4 linked regions of the Homo sapiens genome follow. The protein of the gene in region 4 purifies or fractionates together with the protein of the main gene of each other region. This does not show direct contact. Each region holds a gene or a part of one and is shown on either strand. Other genes may lie near its edges.

The links. Proteins that work in one complex are often made in the same cells at the same time.
Region 1: the proteins of TMEM184A (region 4) and ACSF3 purify together in Homo sapiens (affinity purification with mass spectrometry; 2 studies listed by BioGRID and IntAct, with this or other methods). This does not show direct contact.
Region 2: the proteins of TMEM184A (region 4) and ALDH4A1 purify together in Homo sapiens (affinity purification with mass spectrometry; 2 studies listed by BioGRID and IntAct, with this or other methods). This does not show direct contact.
Region 3: the proteins of TMEM184A (region 4) and DGUOK purify together in Homo sapiens (affinity purification with mass spectrometry; 2 studies listed by BioGRID and IntAct, with this or other methods). This does not show direct contact.

What each region holds. Positions count from the first base shown.
Region 1 is NC_000016.10:89,110,852-89,114,351, reverse strand, and holds part of ACSF3 (malonate--CoA ligase ACSF3, mitochondrial isoform 1 precursor), read right to left. Parts: intron 2,261-3,500; coding exon 2,106-2,260; intron 14-2,105; coding exon 1-13. UniProt on the Homo sapiens protein: Catalyzes the initial reaction in intramitochondrial fatty acid synthesis, by activating malonate and methylmalonate, but not acetate, into their respective CoA thioester. May have some preference toward very-long-chain substrates.
Region 2 is NC_000001.11:18,875,056-18,878,555, forward strand, and holds part of ALDH4A1 (delta-1-pyrroline-5-carboxylate dehydrogenase, mitochondrial isoform a precursor), read right to left. Parts: intron 2,558-3,500; coding exon 2,361-2,557; intron 2,201-2,360; coding exon 2,153-2,200; intron 1,413-2,152; coding exon 1,260-1,412; intron 449-1,259; coding exon 327-448; intron 1-326. UniProt on the Homo sapiens protein: Irreversible conversion of delta-1-pyrroline-5-carboxylate (P5C), derived either from proline or ornithine, to glutamate. This is a necessary step in the pathway interconnecting the urea and tricarboxylic acid cycles.
Region 3 is NC_000002.12:73,954,380-73,957,879, reverse strand, and holds part of DGUOK (deoxyguanosine kinase, mitochondrial isoform a precursor), read right to left. Parts: intron 756-3,500; coding exon 640-755; intron 1-639.
Region 4 is NC_000007.14:1,546,206-1,549,705, reverse strand, and holds part of TMEM184A (transmembrane protein 184A), read left to right. Parts: intron 1-1,017; coding exon 1,018-1,187; intron 1,188-1,766; coding exon 1,767-1,964; intron 1,965-2,524; coding exon 2,525-2,754; 3' UTR 2,755-3,500. UniProt on the Homo sapiens protein: Acts as a heparin receptor in vascular cells. May be involved in vesicle transport in exocrine cells and Sertoli cells.

The DNA.
Region 1 (3,500 bases), on a different chromosome or scaffold from region 4:
TGAGACCATCAGCCTACGCGGCACAACCAAAGGCAGGTTTAGCCCCTTGGGACGTGGCTCTCGCGTGCAAAGGTGGCAGGTTTAGCCCCTCAGGAGGCGGCCCTTGCTTGCAAAAGTGGCAGCTCCTTCACGAGTGCAGGAGCCCCAGGCCGTGGGTACAGCACCACTGTGCGACACCCGGGACCAACGCTGCAGTCTGCGCTACGGCGTGACTTTGTTTTTTGAAAACGATCTGTTGGGTGTATTTTAGAAGGAAGCAGGTCCAACAGCTAATGAGGGTAAACAATGTGCTTAGGGTCCGCGGTGTCCCCTGCAAAGTTCCTGCGCTGTTCACAACCACGCTCAAGAACAGCAGTGACCGTGCAGCTGCCGACCACGGAGCTGATCACGGGTGAACAGCCACGGCGCTGCAGGCTGCGGCCAGGCACATCCGGGGACTACAGCCGGCTCAGCTTGCAGGCTCTGCAGCAGAACGCGGACATGGGTGAATGGCCGCGGCACCCAAGGGGTGGGGCCGGGCACACCCAAGGGGCTCAGAACCACCCGCAGAACTGCAGCCATCTTGGCCCACAGGGTCAGCTCAGGCTTGGCAGGAGAACACGGGCCCTGAGAACTCCGAGTCCCCGCGCTCTCACACAGCATTTCCCGCAGCCTCACGGGCAGTAGGGAAGGCGCTTTTGTTTGCGGTCTGAGCGGAGTGGTCCCTGCTGCTGCCCCTGCTTTACGAGGAGGCACCACTGACAGGACCCCCGCTGGGAGATCCAGATGGCCGAGGTCTCATTGCCTCTGTCACCCCAGAAATCACCTGATCCTCTCCTTCACTGACCTCGTTCTTGCCCTTGGTTCCTTAGATTTGGTAAAACGTTGTGCTCACCCTGCTCAGCTTGGGGCCTGCCCAGCCCCAGGGTATCCCAGCAGTAGCAGCAGCAAAACCATGGGCTCCGGTGGCCTCACAGAAAAGGGGCAAGGGAACGGCAAAGAGAGCGAAGCGGTTCAGACATGTGCCTTGGACAACCCGGAATTCTCTCCAGGAACAAAGGTGCCGCTTCCCTGTGCACTTCCTGGGGACTGGGAGGAGCGCGCGGCAGCCACAGACACACACATCCCACTGGAAACTGGATGGCAGTGGAGCCTTCAGTTCCTGCAGTGCACCCTCCACGCCACCCCTCCCTCTCACAAAAAGAAAAAATACCCCACCCACGACTCTGCTGGAGGTGCGGGCCTGTGATGCGTGTGAAGACTCACTGAGCCACACGTGTGCGTTTCCAGTTAGTGAACCACACCTCAACAGCCACGAGGGAAAAGAAACGTTCCCACGCCTGCAGGTTCATGGGAGAGTGCAGAGCAAACACGCCCCTGGGTGGCCCAAAAGACCAGCTTGTCCTGGGAGGGAGGGGTTTATCCAGGGAGCTGGGAGGGGAGGAGCGGGGCTGAGAGGAAAAGCAGCAGAACGTGCCCCAGGCAGGAGGCCTCACAGGGCTGCCCACGAAGGCAGAGAGACTGCATAGGAGAGGCAGGCGCCGTGGGACATGTGGGCAGATGAAGCAGGAGCAAGCGGGTCAGCTCACTGTCCTCACCCTTGTCCTTCAGACGCCATGACAGAGAGAGAGAGAGACGGACAGGAGAGAGAGCAGACAGACAGACGGAGACAAAGACAGATGGAGAGATAGAGACAGATGGAGAGACAGGAGAGATAGAGAAAGAGAAGACGGAGAGACAGATGAAGAGCGATGGAGAGAGACAGAGAGAAGACAGAGATGGAGAGTCTGACAAGAGAGACAGAGAAGACAGATAGATGGAGAGATGGAGAGAGAGAGACAAAGAGAGACAGAGAGAGATAGAGAGACAGAGTGTGACAGAGAGAGCGATACAGAATCCAGGCAGCTATCGACGTGGAAGAGATTACAGATATACATACAGACGGGTAGAGAGAGAGAGAGACAGTTAGAGAGGTAGAGACGGAGACGGGTAGAGAGAGAGGGAACATTGAAAGGAAATGGAAAGCACTGCTTCCCAGAACTTAGTAGGAGTGATTTATTAGAAATAAGTCGTATCTGTTGATCTTTAAGACTTTCTGAACGAGAAAGTGGGCTCTTTTCACTTACCTAATTTTTTCTTCACAAACTGCACGCAAGAAATCCTGGGCGTGCGGCTGGGTAAAATGCCTGTCGTAGTACTCCATCAGCTTGGTGTATATTGTAGGCACTGCCATAAAGACATTGATCCGCGGCGTTTCAGAACTTAAGAACTTTTCCCAAACCTACGAAGGAAAGGAAGCACTCGGTAGGAAGATGAGCAGGCACTGGGGCCCGTGGCGGAGGCTCCTGGCTCCAGGCACAGCGTTCTCATGGTTCACATTCAAGAGTCTGCAGCGCCTCCCTTCTAAAAGGGGTGCCTCAAACTCTGACCCCTTCCCACAGAAGCCATGTTGCGCGGGACAGCTGCGTCTGGCCTGTGAGGGGAAGAGCAATCGTGAACAGAGCTAGAAAAGGGCTTCGGGATCTGTGGCCTGGAGAGACGTGAGTGGTCAGGCTCTTCCAGCTACACAGAGAGGGCGGATGTACACCTTGGGGAAGCTGGCAGGAGGGCCTGGCTGCCCGCAGACCTGAAGTCAGCATGCTTCCCAGTATGGACAGGCATGCAGTGACTAGCGAACGGGTGAAGTCTTTTATTTAAAAGAGTCATGTGAATTTTATATTTTACTCCATAATAAACATTTCTTGCTTACATATAAATACGTTTTAAGTTCCTCACTCGTTAGCGGGTTCTCGCGTCGCCCATAAAGCTTCAGGAAGAGCTGGTGAGCCGCATTCCTTCCATGGCCCTCTCTACCCGCGGTGTTCCACACGGAGCACCGAAGGGTGTGGCGGAGGGAGGAGGGCACTCTTCGTGCTGTGGGGTCAGCACCTAAGGGAGGCCCAGGACACACAGGACAGATCTCGCCCACACGGCGTTGAAACTGGGGTCGACGGATGCCGATGCCACAGTCCAGCCCCAGCCCATCTCATCTCCTCACTGGACTGCAGTGACGAGTGCCTCACCGCAGCTGCCTGGCAGAGAAAGGCAGGAATCTCCGGGGAAGAAATAATATCATTCTTTCAAAGACAAAGACTGGAACCCTTCAAAGTCACAAAGCATGTAAGGACACAAAGATGTGATCCCCAACTGAAGGGAAGAAGTCTCAGGAAATCCAAACGTCCGAATCACCAGACAAGGCCCTTCAAATCACTGCAATAAGCAGATTAAGGAATTTCAAAGAAAAGATGAACAACGTGGGGAAGATGGAGAATTGCAAAGAGAAGTGGAACTGCAAAAAATCATAAAACTGAAAAACACAAGATCCAAAATGAATTCATTCAATAGACCTAATAACAAACAAGACGCAGCAGAAAAGAGGAAAAAAGTCAGACACAGTCAACGGGGGTGATCTAGGCTGACCCACAGACGGGAAAGCAAAGACACAGGCGACCAGAGTGCGGGAGACAGCAGCACCGCGGAGC
Region 2 (3,500 bases), on a different chromosome or scaffold from region 4:
TAGCATGGGACAATCACCTCACTCAGTGGGGCAACACCAGATCCCGCAGAGCCAGTCGAAGACACCAATTCCTAGCCCTGCCCCTAGAGGTTCAGATCCACTGGTCCCCAGTGGCACCCTGGCACCGGCACCACCAGTACCGGCAACAAAGAGCCTGCTGCTGTGGGCCCATGTGGCGAGCCCTGGCTGCCTGTCTGGGCTGAGGGGAGGGGACAGAGAGAAGGTAGGGGCAGCATTATTACTGGGAACCACGTCCAGGAGGTGGGGATGGGGACACGGACAGGACACCCGGAGCACAGCACCAGGGCTGCGGCCTGGCCACTCACTTATCCTGGGAGAACACTGCCCCCGTGAGGCCATAGCTGGTGGTGCTGTCAACCAGCTGCAGCGTCTCCTTGTACTTGTCATCCGGGTAGACGTACACAGACAGTACAGGCCCGAAGATCTCCTAGGAGAGAGGCCCCGGCGTCAGACCCTCCACGGGACCAGGGACCAGGGCCCTGAGCCCTCCCAGTGCCCCTGCTCTGGCTCACCCTCTCCCCAGTCCCTGGGCCTCAGTTTACACTTCAGTGTCTGCAAGAAGGGTCAGGTGTCGCCTCCTCCTGGGTTCCCTCCAGGACAGCAACGTGCCCAGCTCCCTGTCCTGTCCATCCCACCACAAGCCGGCAAAAGATGCAAACATTTTCTGGCTCTCCCTGCCAAACCCACACCCGGAGAACTAAGGGTCCAGGTCCCAGAGGCTTCCAGCAGCAGCTGGCATGAGAGTTGCCCAGAGATACCATTCCCTCCAGAAGGGTTCATGGTTCCCTCTGCCACCAAGGGGCTGGGGGGAAGATCTTCTCAGGCACACTCCAGCCCTGCACTACCAACTTGGGCAAGTGCCTTGACCTCAGTTTCTCATCTGTAAAATGGGAACAGTAACACCCACGTCATCTCAGCCAAGTGCTCAGCCACAGCTGGCCCCACAGTAAAAGTCTATCAGTGTCAGCCATTATGATGGCTGCAGTGGACGTGGTTGCTGAGGGCACTGGAAATGCTCAGACCCCAGCCAGGGTCAAGGACACAGCCCCGGATTTGGAGTTAGGCAGCCTGAGCTCAAAACCTGGCTCTACTCTCTCCCGGTCGGAGGCATTCCCTTTTAGGGTCTCCCTTTAGGGCCTCATCTGTGAAATGGGAGAATGTCTCCAGGAGAACTGTGTGTGTGCTGTGCTCCGGTGGGATTGTCCTCCTCTGGACCCCAGGCTGCCCACCCCAGTCACCTCCTTCATGATGGGCTCCTGAGGGTCCTTGCTCTCCACGATGCAGGGCTCCACAAAGTAGCCCACGGAGTCATCACACTTGCCCCCGGCCAGGATGGTGAGGCTGGGTGAGGAGCGTGCGTGCTCCAGCCACTTCTTGATACGGGCAAAGGACTGGGGTGGGCAGGGAGGAGGGAGGTCTAAGAGGCTGGGAAGGCATCCCTGCGGCAGCCCCCACAACACACTCACCCCGAAACACCTGCACCTGAAGGGCCCAACTCCTGAAACAGGGGCAGGGGTAGGGGACGCCAAGGGCAAAAGCCAGGGTCTGGCTGAGCCACAGCAGAGACAAGGACAGACATGAACACTGTGTGTGTGTGTGTGTGTACACACACAAGTGTACGTGTGTTAGTACTACAGGTGCACTCGCATATAAACACAGACACACATCAATCAATGCATATATAGGCATATGCATGGTCACATGTCTAAGCATGTAGGGATCTGCATGCCTTCTCCATGTACATGCGTGTGGGTGGACTTATCGACATATGCGTGTGTGTGCTTATGTGCAAATGGATATGTACGTGTTTATATGGAAAGACCTACATGTGGAGCCACACGGAGCCCTATATGAACACATTCACAAACACACGTGTACATGCACTCATGCAAATGCTATTAGGAGCTCGCTGAGCCTGGTTCCAGGGTGGCCGCAAGATGAGCTCTTGTCTGGCTACGGCTGATTCTGCCCTTTCTGAAGCTGGAGGTGCGTGTGTGGCTGCTGAGCTGCCTTGATCAAAGCAGTGGGGCTGGGTCATGCCCTGGGTCAGGGTACCCTGTATCTCTTCCTCCCTCTTCCACCCACTCCAGGGCTTGCCCCCACCCAGGAACGCCCACTTCCCACCCCGTACCTTGGCATCAATCACTGCAGAGAAGAAGGTCCCAAAATCCTCTGCAGGCTGGAGGCAAGGGAGGCGCCAGAAGAGACGAGTCACTGCAGGCCGAGACCAAGGGAGACCCCTCCCCGCACACCCCAGCCCCGGCTGCAGAGGAGCCTCCCAGGGACCCAATCCCATCAGCCCCCCGCTGGGCCGCGGCGGGGGTGACGGTGCCACTCACGTCGCCCACTTTGATCCGACTGTGCTCCTCCAGCAGCCGCCCTTTGATCTGCGGCCACAGCGAGTGCGGCACGTAGAGACGCGAGCACGCGGAACACTTCTGGCCACCGTACTCGAAGGCTGAGCGGAGGGTCCCGCTCACCACGCTCTCCACGTCGGCCGAGCGGTGCACGAAGTGGAAGTTCTTTCCGCCGCACTCTACAGGGGTCGGGGGTGGGGAAATGACCAGAGGAGCTGGCTCCCCCGGTTGCCCAGGGGCCCAAAACACCACCTACGCCATCCATGGCCCGGGACCAACACGAGCACGGAGCAGCCCAGAGCGGGCGGAGGCTCAGAGTGAGCGCTGGCCAACATCCCAGAGACCCACGGGCCAGGCCCATTCTCCCACTCCACAGATGAGGAAACTGAGGCCCAGGGAGGGGTGAAGGGCATCAGAGGTGATCAGGTCCAACAGCCCCATTACACTGATGGGAAAACTGAAACTACCCAACACAACAGCAGAGGACAGATGAGAACCCAAGGCCCCCGAGAGCCAGCCATTCCCAGAAGTGGGCACAGCTTTTTGTGAGGTTCTCCTGAGCCCTCGTCCACGAGGGACATTGGAGCCTACCCTATGTCGGCTGCCAGGGTTGGGCCCCTCCTCCCCACGCGTGCTGGAAACCGCTCCCCCATTTCCCCAGTGGGAGGGAGCTTCAGACAGGTCACTTCACTCTCCCGGCCTCAGTTTCCTCCCTCCGTGGGAAGCAGCAGCTAACAGCAGCTGAAAGCACTTAACAGCTGCCCAACTCTGGACGAAGTACGCTGTGCTTTGTCTGACCAAAGCCTCACAACAACCTCCCATTACTATCCCCAATTTCAAGCCAAGAAAACTGAGGCACAGAGAGATGAAGTCACCTGCTCCAGGTTGGAAAGTGGTAACCAGCGGCCTCTCTCCCTCAGGGAGGCAGGGAAGGAGGCTCTGAGAGCAGAAAGCCACACAGCTGACCCTGAGGAGCGCTCACCTTCCCTGACACCCCCATCCGAACTCCCACCAGTCCAGGAACAGGGTCCAGACTCCCCAGTGGGCCCCAATTCACGCCACAGAGAAACATGCTGGACCACCGGTCCCAGCTCTGCTGGTCACGTGCTGGCTGCAACTCTC
Region 3 (3,500 bases), on a different chromosome or scaffold from region 4:
AGGGAGGACAGGCAGAAACCAGGAATGCCAACTTAGTAATACTGACAATTTCTCTAACATTTTCAGCCCTTCATGCTGAGCCAACTATCACCATCAATCACAATGTTCAGTCTAGGGAAATGTTAAGAAACAAAGAAAAAGCTGGAGAAATACAATCTAATAAAAAGGCCCTTGGAATGTAAAGATTATATTCAATATTAAACTTCTTCTGGGCATCTCACTCTGTCGCCCAGGCTGGAGTACAGTGGTGCGATCTCGGCTCACCGCAATCTTTGCCTCCCAGGTTCAAGCGATTCTCCTGCCTCAGCCTCCCGAGTAGCTGGTATTACAGGCGCCTGACACCACACCTGGCTAATTTTTCTATTTTTAGTAGAGACAGGGTTTCACCATGTTGGCCAGGCTGGTCTTGAATCCTGACCTCAGGTGACTGCCTCAGCCTCCCAAAGTGCTGGGATTACAGGCGTGAGCCACGGTGTCCAGCAATATTAAACTTCTGAGTTGGAAAATGCTTGACATTTCCAACCATTTCCAGTATATTCTGAACCTTCCTACAGGGGGCTGCATGCTGAACTTGTTTTTAACAACTGGCTGTTGGGAGCCAGGTCTCTGTCTCTGATACATTCTTTTCTCCCCACTTACTTCGTTGTCTTGTGAATAAGCCAGGCTTCGTGTTGGCCATGCAGCTGCTCTAGATAGGCCAGCTCAATTCCTTTCTCCTCCTCCCTGGCCCTCTGGTACAGTCTCTTCAAACAAACCTAAAAGACAGTCCCCAAGCCCTGATGAGCTCTTTGCTGTTTTGGCTGCTACAATGCAGTCTTCGGGGGCTCTGAGGCCCACCCATAATGTCTATCTTGGGCATTACAAGCCATGCCTTTGCTTCTGCTGTCTTGTTTTCTTATGCAATCAGAGGATCTACACCATTCTTTTCCCATCTCCACCTTAAACCTGCTCTTCCTCTGAAGTATCCTAAGTCGGTTAATGATGAACATCATCCATCCAGTCATCCAAGCCACGGACCTGGAATTTTCCTTGTTTTTCCTTCTCCCTACTATATCTGGGAAGTCACTCAATTCTCTTTCATCTCTCTAGAATGTTCTCTCCTTGCCTCTCCTCTCACCTCTGCCCTGGTCGGGTCCTCTTTACTTCTTACCTGGATTATGGCAAGAGCCTTCTGGTTCTGCCTCCTGGAGGCAGGGAAGCATATGGACAGAGTACAGGCCTTAAGGTCAGAAAGTCCAGGAGTAAATTCCTGCCTTCATAAGGTACTAGCAGTGCAGTCCTTGTGGGCTTCTATTTCCTCATTGTCTACCCATCCACAGGTCACTGAGGTAAGTTGTATTGAGCTCCTGGCAAAAGCTGTTCCCTCCTTCCAGTTTTTCCCCTTCACTCCACCCGTCTGTAGTACGGCAATATAATGACATGACTTTCCTTGCTGAAAATACTTCACAGGCTCTTTACCGCCTACAGCCATAGCCCCAGGGTTCAAAGCAGTATGTATGAATAGCATTGCATTTATAAAATGTTAGGTAATTTGAAATATCTCTTTCATGTCATACCAAACATTCACTCAGGAATAGAATGTAAAATTTGCACAGGTCAAAGATAAAACAAAGAAGTGGAAAAACAAGTGAGGCTTGAGACTAACTCTCCTCCCCCGCTGCTTTGCAGAGTGTACATAATTCTATTCTGCATTCATCTGGTAGTGAAGTTTGATGCACACTGGCTCAGAAAATGACATCTTCTTTACCTGTCACACAAAGCTACCCCTCCTACTTCTCAACTGCCTTAGCTCTTCCCCTGGACTCACTGCTTTAGCCAGATTTGACCTCTTTCCTGGGGAACAGGCCAGGCTCTTTCACACCTCAAAATTTTTGCTCCAAATGTTTGTTTTGACTGAATTATCCTCAGTCCTCTCTCTGCTTGACAAACATTTCATTATTCAATATCATCTGTCCTGGAAGAACAGATGGATTAACCCACTGATTTAGGACTTCACTCTTTTTTTTTGAGACAGAGTCTTGCTCTGTTGCCAGGCTGGAGTGCAGTGGCGCGATCTCAGCTCACTGCAACCTCTGCCTCCCAGGTTCAAGTGATTCTCTTGCCTCAGCCTCTCAAGTAGCTGGGACTACAGGCGGGAGCCACCACGCCCAACTAATTTTTTGTATTTTTAGTAGAGATGGGGTTTCACCATGTCGGCCAGGATGGTCTCGATCTCTTGGCATCGTGATCTGCCCGCTTCGGCTTCTCAAAATGCTGGGATTACAGGCGTGAGCCACCGTGCCCGGCCAGGACTTCCCTCTTTCAATAACTTACTTAAGAAATGAAAACTTAATTTCCAAATGTAGTACACAATAATCCCAAAGACTTGGGAGTCTTTGCTGTTTCCCTCTTATCTTACCTTTTCTCTAAGGAAATGAAATTATAGAAACAAATTTTATTAATGATCAAAAGGTATATGCACTTGCAATTATATACTGCCAGACTGCCTCCTTAGAGGTTAACCAATTTATATTCCCACCAGAAAGGTAGCTTTAGGATTTCTAAGCATAGCAAAGCTATCATCTCATTTTCCTTTCTGAGAAAAAAAATGTTGTCTGTTTCGTGAAAATAAATTTTTTTAAAATGTGACTTTATGTTTCCAAGTACACACACAAAGGCAGAACAATTCTTTTTAGGAAAGCTATTTATAATTATTCATTCACTGCTTGCAGACAAACCTTGACACTAACATTGATCTATTAAAATAAGCTAACATATTTCTATTTACTATTAATTTCCTTAACAGAGCAAATGGATTTCCCTGAGAAGTCTAAGTCTTAACTGGTGGCAGTATTGAGTGGGGAAAAAAAAAGAGGTCGAAGTAAACTCCTACTATGAGCATTTGGCATAACTCTTGCTTTACTGATATCGCTATAACAAATTCTATTTAAAAAAATCCCGTGCAAACAGTGCTTTAGTCTGACCCCTCTTCATCTCAGTCCTCATGAGGAAGACACACCTGAATGTGAACAGGAAAGATAGTGTAGCTACAAGTGGCGAGGGAGAGACCCTTTACTGGTCTTCTTAACCTGTCCCACCCAGGAAGAAGAACTGCTGCTCTGCTTGCTTGGAGTCAGAAACAGAAAATGGAAAGTGACTGCTAGTGGGTCTTTTCACTATGCCTCTCAAGCCCAAACCCAGGTGCCATTTGTCCCATGCACCTCCTGCATGCTGTCCCCATGCTGTGCCAGTCCCAGGTAGGGCCTGGCTTTTTGATGTACATTGATCAGCTGCACTCTCTTGATTCCATGGGGCTGGCTAGGAACACTGAGGCCTAGCTATTTCTCTTTTGAGTTTTAAAATTGTTAGCTTGCTTGTGTTTTAAAAAAAATTTTTAGAGATGGGGTCTCCCTATGTTGACCATGCTCGTCTTGAGCTCCTGGCCTCAAGCAATCCTCCCATCTCAGCCTCCCAAAGTGCTGGGATTACAGGCGTGAGTCACCGTGCCCGGCCTGAGTTGC
Region 4 (3,500 bases):
GGGTCCCCTGGGGCCCAGCGGTGGGGCCCAACAAGGCAGGCCTGGCGTCCGGCTGGGCTAGGGGCCCCGCCCAAGACAGGTACCCACTTCTTCTCCACAAGGACCTCGGTGCCTGCCAAGGCCGGGGGCCTGGACCTCCCCTCACAGGACACGGCTGGGGTGAGTCTAGCGTCTGTGCCAGCATCTGCGCCGAGGACCCCAGGGCTTCTGGCCAGGCAGTGATGGCCCCAGCCCCCGCCCAGCCTTGAGCACTCTTGGCATTAAGGGCACCTGGGCCAAGGGGACCAAGGTCCACCCCGACCTGTTGGCTGAACAGACAGGCAGCCACCCAGCACAAGGAGGACCCCTGCGAAGGTCCACACAGCTCACCCCTTGGACCCCTGCGAAGGTCCAAGGTGCTCACCAACACCACACAGATGCTCACACACGGGGACACATGTGCTGTCACCTGTGCGCACACATCACACACGTGCATCACATGTTCACACATGCACACAGCACATGCGCAAACCGTGCACACACCACCACACATGTATGTACACTCACATGCACGCAATATGTGCACACACACAGCGCACCCCACCTGTGTGCACACGACATACATGCACACACACCTATGTGCACACACTCACACGGGAACGACACCTGTGTGTCCACCACACAGAGGATCTTCAGGCAGTGGCCAGGTGGACGGGGTTGGGAGGTGGCGTTCCGACAGAGGCAGCCTGGATGCTGCCTGAGCAGTGGACAGGATCCTGGGACGAGGAGGAGCAGGGCCGGTAGGGAGAACGGCCACGTCCCTGCCCTACCCCTGCATAGGCCCCCCAGCCACCCCCAGCTCCCCACGCTCTCCTGCAGGCCCTGGAGTGAGGATCAGATCGGGGCAGGATCCCTGCAGGGCCCATGCTCCCAAGCTCAGGGTGGGGACCAGGCTGAGGGTGCAGCGGCGGTGGCTCTAGGGTGGGGACAGTGGCGGGGTCATGGGACCGCCCTGACCACAGCCCCCGTCTGTCCTAGTGTCCGCAGCGGCTACCTCTATGTGACCCTCATCTACAACGCCTCCGTCAGCCTCGCCCTCTACGCCCTGTTCCTCTTCTACTTCACCACCAGGGAGCTCCTGCGGCCCTTCCAGCCCGTCCTCAAGTTCCTCACCATCAAAGCCGTCATCTTCCTGTCGTTCTGGCAAGGTGTGTGGGGCAGGTGGGGCAGGGGTGCTACCGAGGTGGGGGCTGCAGTCCAGTGAGCCTGGGGTCACCTCACACCCCTTTCCCCAGCCCCCACGTGCTTCAGTTTCTCCAGCTGCAGCACAGGTCAGCTGGAAGCCAGGGTAGAACCTGCGGGCATGAGGGAGTGGAGAGGTCCCGCCAGCACGGGGGAGTGGGGAGGTCCCGCCAGCAGGTGGAGAGAGGTCGCACAGAGGCCACACCAGGTGTTTCCTGAATCCTGGCCCCCACTGGGCCCTGGGCCAGGCCAGGGCACTGACAGCCCACTTTGGCAGAGGAGGATGGCCACCAGACAGGGCACGGGCCCAGGATCTGGGGCTGGAGTGGCAGGGCGGGCCCGGGAGAGCTCCTGAGCACCTGCTGTGCCGAGACCCCCGACTTTGGAGGCGCCCTGCCCCCCTGAACCTCAGTCTCCTGGGGTGGGACGAGACTACACGGACGGGGTCACAGCACCCGTCAGAGGAGCCGCTGCGGGGTCTGGGGCCTCTTCCTCCCCTGCAGACCCCGTCTGGGGCTGGGGCTGAGCGGCCGTGGCGTCCGCAGGGCTGCTGCTGGCCATCCTGGAGCGGTGCGGGGTCATCCCGGAGGTGGAGACCAGCGGCGGGAACAAGCTGGGGGCTGGCACGCTGGCCGCCGGCTACCAGAACTTCATCATCTGCGTGGAGATGCTGTTCGCCTCCGTGGCCCTGCGTTATGCCTTCCCCTGCCAGGTGTACGCAGAGAAGAAGGAGAATTCACCAGGTACACCCTGCCTTCCAGCTGGGGCACCCGGAGCGCACAGCCCTGCCCCGGGCACCGTGTCTGTGTCCGTGCCATTCTCGAGGCCCAGGAATGCCAGCTCGCTGGGCAGGGAGACGGGCAAAGGGCATCCGGCTCCGGACAGGCACCTGGGCTGTGTGGGGTCCAGGCGGTCCCGGACCCCAATGGTGATGGGGGATGGGTGTCCCCTGCCAGGCACACCCCCTATTAGGGCGGAGACAGCCTGTGGCCTGCCGGCTTCTCATCAGTCACTGTGGAGAGACCAGGGTGCCCACCCGAGGCCAGCCAAAGGCGTACTCCGCTGCTTGGAGCCCCTCGGAAGCTCTAGGGGACGTGGTCCTTGTCAGGGGTCTGGCCAGGGACGGGCCCGGTGCTGGGTGGAGCAAGCTGGGCTGGGGTCCAGGGGTCTGGGGCCACCCTCTGCTGGCCGAGGCCAGACCTGGACATGCAGGAGCTACAGCCCTGGGCATCCTGGGAGGGGACTTGTCCGGGGAGCTGGAGTGCAGGGGGGATGGTGGGGCTCATACACTGCCCTCCCCCAGCCCCCCCGGCACCCATGCAGAGCATCTCCAGCGGCATCAGGGAGACAGTGAGCCCCCAGGACATCGTGCAGGACGCCATCCACAACTTCTCCCCCGCCTACCAGCACTACACGCAGCAGGCCACGCACGAGGCGCCCAGGCCCGGCACCCACCCCAGCGGCGGCTCCGGCGGGAGCAGGAAGAGCCGGAGCCTGGAGAAGCGGATGCTGATCCCCTCGGAGGACCTGTAGGGGGGCCTGGGCTGCCAGTGCTGTAGGGACCCAGGCTGCCCAGGCCTCTGGGGAAGAACAGGGTCCCCCCACCCACCAACTCCTGCCAAAGGTGGGGCCTCTCCTGAGAGCCCACCTGTGAGGCCCTCGGAGCCCACTTCCCATCCTCCCTCCAGCCAGGGGGTCAGGGCACCTGATGGCCCTGGCAGGCACCCAGGTGGGCCCGCCACCGCAGGAGAGGGCACCTGAGCCAATCGGAAGAGCCTGGGGACCCCCTGGGATCACCCAGCCATCAGCCCCAGGAGCCACTGTGGGGCGGAGAGTGAGTGTGGCTGCGGGGCCTTGGCTGCACGGACCCCATGGGAGCTGTGAGTGGGTCAGACTCCCTGGTTCAGGAGACAGACAGCGGACGGATCCCAGGCTGGGCAGCTGGAGGGAGGGGCGCCGGGGCGCTGGGCAGCCGGGCTCTGACACAGTCAGCAGCTCCGGGCGCCGCAGGCCGGCGGGGTCCACACAGGCTGGCCGGGGCTGGGCCTCCTTGGAGCCTGCTACGGCCCTCGTGGGCACGTGGAGAAGGGCCCACGTGTCTCCACACGCCAGCCACAGGGGAGCCCTGGCCAGGCGCCCAGCCAGGGGAGCGTGTGCCTGGGATGGGTCACAGAACCAGCGGGCACCTGTGAGGCTGGCCAGCACCGTGGGGCTGTGGGAATCGCTCTTATTTATATTTAAACACCTTGGATTTTCTACCGGGTCTTGGCTTCTGTTCC